Regions from separate parts of the Homo sapiens genome. Here region 1 is linked to region 2. Evidence: fine-mapped expression QTL. A gene starts in region 2. The other region holds a variant in brackets. All regions are shown on one strand. Distances are between the middles of the regions.

What was found. PIP is the estimated chance that this variant, and not a neighbour inherited with it, causes the effect. A credible set is the group of variants that fine-mapping cannot tell apart.
Region 1: its variant is the best candidate, but not a certain one, in a credible set for the expression of PLEC in whole blood (INTERVAL, PIP 0.78).

What each region holds. Positions count from the first base shown.
Region 1 is chr8:144,063,090-144,065,987 of GRCh38, reverse strand. It overlaps a transcript of OPLAH not described here and a transcript of EXOSC4 not described here. Among named protein-coding and RNA genes, the nearest start is that of OPLAH, 3.8 kb to the right of the region's middle. The variant C/T (reference allele first, on the strand shown) is at 1,270.
Region 2 is chr8:143,938,052-143,940,949 of GRCh38, reverse strand. PLEC (plectin) reads left to right here and starts at 1,353. Exons shown (of 32, transcript NM_201384.3): 1 at 1,353-1,600; 2 at 2,258-2,319; 3 at 2,710-2,799. The coding sequence starts at 1,489. RefSeq lists enhancers at 435-729, 907-966, 1,377-1,616 and silencers at 1,127-1,356, 1,637-1,736.

The sequences.
Region 1 (2,898 bases), 130 kb before region 2:
AACAAAAAAACTAGCCAGGCATGGTGGTGCATGCATCTGTGGTCCCAGCTACTTGGGAGGCTGAGGTAGGAGGATCCCTTGAGCCTGGGAGGTCAAGGCTTCGATGAGCTATGATTGCACCACTGCACTCCAGCCTGGGTGACAGAGTGAGACCCCATCTCAAAAAAAAAAAAAAGTAAATAAAATAAAATAAAAAAATAAAAATACTCTACTCCATTTTCTTCCTAATTATAGGAATTATTTTATTGTAGTTGAGACAGAGTCTTATTCTGTTGCCCAGGCTGGAGTGCAGTGGCACGATCTCAGCTCACTGCAACCTCTGCCTCCCAGGTTCAAGTGATTCTCCAGCCTCAGCCTCCTGAGTAGCTGAGATTACAGGTGCCTGCCATCGCGGCCAGCTAATTTTTGTATTTTTTTTTTTAGTAGAGATGGGGTTTCACCATGTTGGCCAGGTTGGTCTCGAACTCCTGACCTCAGGTGATCTGCCCGCCTCAACCTCCCAAAGTGCTGGGATTACAGGTGTGAGCCCCTGCACCCGGCCGAGAATTAAATTGTCACAATTTCTGTTGGGATTCAGTACAGTTGCCCCCAGTCTCCTGGAGCACTAGTCTCAGGGGCACTGCCCCCACTCGCACAGGTGAGGGGCCCTGCGATGGCTCCACTCGAGTAGCCAGGGAAAGGAGTTTGAGAATCCCAGGACAGTCTACAAATCAGCAAGTGGAAACTAGACCATCAAACAAGCAAAAGAGAAAAATGATGTAAAATACATAATAATCATAATGTAAGAAAAAGCCAGAAAACCAAAGTAACTGTGCAGAAGTGTCCCTTTAAAGACAGATTGGAGGCTGGGCGCGGTGGCTCACGCCTGTAATCCCAGCACTTTGGGAGGCTGAGGTGGGCAGATCACGAGGTCAGGAAATTGAGACCATCCTGGCTAACACAGTGAAACCCCGACTCTACTAAAAAAAATACAAAAAAATTAGCCAGGCGTGGTTGCGGGCACTTGTAGTCCCAGCTACTTGGCAGGCTGACGCAGGAGAATGGCGTGAACCTGGGAGGCGGAGCTTGCAGTGAGCCCAGATGGCGCCACTGCACTCCAGCCTGGGCGACAGAGCAAGACTCCATCTCAAAAAAAAAAAAAAAAAAAGACAGATTGGATAGAAGAAGAAAGTCCTTTATGTGATCTAAAATGCAAACCACTGTCACCACTGAGGGTGAGGGTGGCTCTCCTGTCCCTGGGGAGGTGTGTCTTTAGGTCCTGGTCCTCAG[C/T]CTCTGGTGGGCCGCCTGGCCCATCCCCTTCCTTGAGGTTATGGCCCAGATGTGGTGCCTCTTCCAGGGCACCTGCCTGCTCGCTGCAACCTCCATGTGACAATGCCAAGGCCCTGTGCCCCCAGAAACAGGCCCAGCCTCCCTTGTGGTGGCTCTAGCACTGCCTGGTGCATCCCTTGGCCTGCAGCCCCCTCCCATGCTGTCCTAGCGTGCTCTCGGCTGGCTCTGCCCCTGTAGCCCTGGCCTGCCCTGGTTGCTGCTGTCCAGCTCCTGCTGTTGCTGGGCCCCATCCTGCAGGGCAGCCACGCACCCACCCTTCCTGATCCCTTCAGAAGCTGTGCCAACCGTGACTGCCGACATACCACACCTGGTTGCCTAAAACTATGTCCTGGCATGGCCAGGCCTGGAGGCTGTGGCTGGTGGCCAGTGGGCTGTCAGACGGGTGGGTGCGGAAGCCTGCATCCCATATCCCTTCCCCCACGACACACCTGGGCTTGGCCGGGTCAAAGAAGCTTCCATCTTCTAGGAGGAGGATTCCTGGAGTGAGCCAGAGACCTGGGACAGTTCTGGGCACCCACTGGCCATTTGGCCCTCAGGGGGCTGGAGGTCAGAGGTCAGGCCACCTCTGCCACGGGGTGGTTGGAACAGCTGGGTCCTGACCCTGAAGGCCCGGAATGCGGCTGAGGCGAGGGGGCAGGGGCAGCTGCTGACCTCACAATAGCAGGGTCTGCTGTCCCTGGCCGGCCTGCTGGCCCCCGCCAGCTGCCGCCGCTGGCTGCCAGGCATGTCCCTCCTCAGCAGCTATGAGGGCCTGCGGCAGGAGATCCAGCGGCTGGCACAGGAGAACGAAGAGCTGCGGCGGCTGGTGCAGCTCATCCAGGAGAACCAGGAGCTGAAGCTGGTGCTCAGGAACCGCGGCAGCAGCCTGGGCTTCTGCAGCTCCGGGTTCCTGGCTGAGGTGGCTGCCAGTCCCTGGCTACCCAGGCGGAGAACGATCAAATTCAAGAATGCTGAGAGAGGTGAGCCGTACCGGGGCCCCAAGACTCTGTGGAGTTGGGCAAACCCGCTGGGTGCTGCGGTGCCTCTGGAGCAAAGCCAGGGCCCTGGGGCTCTTCCAGGATGTGCGGCGGGGAGAAGGTGCCAGGTCTGGGAAAGTGACCTCTGAGCAGAGCCTGAGCGGGCGAGGGAGCTGCCAGGCTGGGGCGCGGCTTTCCAGGCCCAGGGAACAGCCTGTGCCAGGCCCTGAGGTGGGTGCAAGTTGTCTGTGCCTGAAGCTGTCAGAGTCACTGCAACGGCAGACTCTGTCCTCCCAGCCCTGCGCTCTCTGGTGGTGGGGACAGCCATATCCCTGGGGGAACGTGATGGAAGCCTGGCCGGGGTGGAGGTGTGAGAAGTAGCAGCTCTGTGTTCTGAAGGTGAAAGTAACAGGACTTCTGGCAGATTGCGTGTGGGGATGAGAATGGGGCTGGGGCAGCTCGCTGGGTGGGGGAGCCGCTGCTGGAGTGGGCCACTGGTAGGTGGCCTGGGGCTTGGTTTTGGGACGTGTCTGGCCATGCAGTCAGAGGCGCCACTAGAGAGTAGGGGCCGGGCCATCCCGCAGGCCTGGAGCTGCCTCTGGTTGCTGTGGAG
Region 2 (2,898 bases):
GGCAGAGCAAGAGGGTCACCCTGAATCTCATGCCAGGCTCAGAGACCATGCATGGAGACCAAGGGGTGTCTTCGTTGGGCGGCGTGTACGATGTGGCAGAGCCCTAGGGGCTGGCTGTGCCCCTTGGCGTGGAGTGGGGGCTTCCCCACCTCTGAGGGGTTTGGGCACCCCCCATTGTGAGGGTTCTGGTGCCCCCTCACGGCCTCAGGGGCAGTAGGAATGAGGTGGGGTGAGCTCTTCCCAGAACTGAGGCCGAGTGCAGCTCCCAGCTGGACCGAATCTGCCTGATGTGCGGCTGGAACATTCTTGTGGTTGGGGCAGCGCATTCTTTCCTATGGTGGTCGGGTGGGCTGGGCAGGCCCAGAAGCTGGCCAGAGGCAGCTCCGCCCCGGACCCCAGGGAGCCGGAGGCCCCAGCCAGCGCAGGCCCTTTGCCCTTTGCCCTTTACAGCATGAGACTGCTTCCCTTGAGCCCCACCCAGCTGCAAACAGCACCCCCCACCCCTGGGGTCGCCCAGGTCCTGCCTCAGGTGTGGCTTCCCCTCTGTGAGTCACAGGCTTGGGCCCCCTCCCCATCCCTGACTCACTGGCGAGGCCCCTCCTGGGGCTTCCCGATGCTCCATTCCCCCATGAGGCCCGGCCTCCGTGAGTCAGCCCTCAGCTACGCGCCTCCGACGTGAGGTGTCTGCCTGGGGCAGGGTGGGCTCCGCAGGTGGGCACTGCTCCAGGATGTGCCAGGTGGGCAGCTTGGGAGGGGCCAGGCCTGGGGTGGGACCCCACTGGCCCCAGGGCCAGGGCAGGCACCATGGGGCAGGGTGTGCTCCCCGCTTCATGCAGGTCTGTGAAGAGGTGTGATTGGGGGGCTGCAAGAGCTGACAGGCAGCAGGTCCCCTCCCCTCGCCAGGTATCAGCGGCTTCTTGAGTCCGCCCTGGCAGGGTGGGTGGGCAGAGGCTGAAGCAGGGCCTGGCCCAGGCCTGGAGGGAGCTCCAAAGAGAGGCGTGGCCTCAGAGCCCCTCCCGTCGGGGGAGCCCTTCAGTCTGTTGGGGGGTCCTTCTGGGTGGCTGTGGGGACGGCCTGTGTTCCTCTGCGGTCCTGGCACCATTTGGTGTGCAGTGAAGTGCCAGCTCCCCGTGTCCCCAGGTCCCCCTAGGGGGCTGCAGTGGTCGGGGTGGGTGAGGAAACCCCGGTTTCCTGTTTCTGGCGGGCCGAGGGCGTGTCTGTGGGGGAGGGGGCTGCTTGCTCCTTCCCGCCGGGACACTCCCCTCCCTGGCGGCGGCCTGGGCAGGGTGGGGCCTCGGGGGCGGGCCGGCCTCGCCGGGGAGTACAGCAGGCAGGGAGTGGCCGCACCGACTGGGGCTCTGAGCTGAGCCTGTGCCGAGTGAGCGTCTCGTGGGGCCGCCAGCCTTCAGCTGCCTGTGTGCCACACGGGGCTGCCCAGAGCACCGTGCCTGAGGCCGAGGGTCCGGGCGACGAAGGTGTGGGGGCAGCATGTCTCAGCACCAGCTCCGCGTGCCGCAGCCCGAGGGCCTGGGCCGAAAGAGAACCAGCTCGGAGGACAACCTGTACCTGGCTGTGCTCAGGGCCTCTGAGGGCAAGAAAGGTAGCAGGGCTCCCCTCGGGCACCCCCGCCAGGCAGGGCGGGCCCCTGCGGGAGGAAGGCCCACTTCCTGTGGCAGGAAAGCCTTGGCACCGCTGGGGGGCTGGTCTTGGAGATGGGGGTCGGGGGCCAGCCATCCCCACCCAACACGGAGTGGGCCGACAGGCGCCCGCGAGGCTGACGGGGGCCTCCGAGCGTCAGATGTCGGGCCTGGAAGGGCGAGGAACTCTGCGCTCTGGGGAAGGTTCGCTGCCCTGTCAGCAGCACACGCGGCTTCCCTTCCAACACCCCAGCGGGCCCGGGCCCTGGCTCTGCCACACCCCTGCTTGGGTCTCAGTCTGTAGAGGCCGGGGGGGACTGCAGGACGGGACTTGTGTGCCCTGGGCTCAGGGTGCGCCCAGGACCCTCCCATTTCCTCGGGGGAAGAGTCCGGGGTGGGGTGGCTGCACCTGGTGGCGCCTGGGCCCCTGGCACCTGGGTCTCTGCTGTGTGGCTGGGCTGCGGGTGAGGGCGCCTGGGTCTCAGTGTGTGATCTGAGGGAGGCTTTGGGGCTCCCCAGGCAGGACCTGGCCAGCCAGGCTGCTGTGTCTGCACGGTGGTCACCTGAGGGCCCCCGGGGCTTCTCCCAGGCCCCAGGTAAGCTGGTCTTGTCTCCCCCAGATGAGCGGGATCGTGTGCAGAAGAAAACCTTCACCAAGTGGGTCAACAAGCACCTCATCAAGGTTGGTGGCGCATGCTGGTGCGTGTCACAGGGGCTGAGGCTGTGGGAGGCGCTGAGGGAGGGTGGCCCCTGCCGCCCAAGGCTGTCCCCATGCTGCCTGTGTGCTCACCTTTCATCTCTGAAACCTGTTATTTTCTGTCCTCTTTCTTCCCTACGCCTGCTCCTGCCTCTCTCTTCCTCCTCTTCCTTCTGGTCTTTCCTGGTCTCTCCTTGCAGCACTGGCGGGCAGAGGTAGGTGCCTCCGTGGGGCAGGGTGTGTTCCGTGGGCTCCCGGGAGACTCAGCCCCCGCCTCCTTCCCTCTGGGACCAGCACCCACTCTGTAGATCAGCCACTCAGGGCCTATTGGTGGCTCTGGGGGACTGGCCACCTCAGCCGCTGCTGTCCCCACAGGCCCAGAGGCACATCAGTGACCTGTATGAAGACCTCCGCGATGGCCACAACCTCATCTCCCTGCTGGAGGTCCTCTCGGGGGACAGCCTGGTACGTGTGCCCCTGCCCCCTCCGGGCCCCGCCTGCCCCACCTGGAGACCTCTGCCTGCCTTCCCTCCTTGGGGCCTCTCCGGCCGCCCACTCTACTTG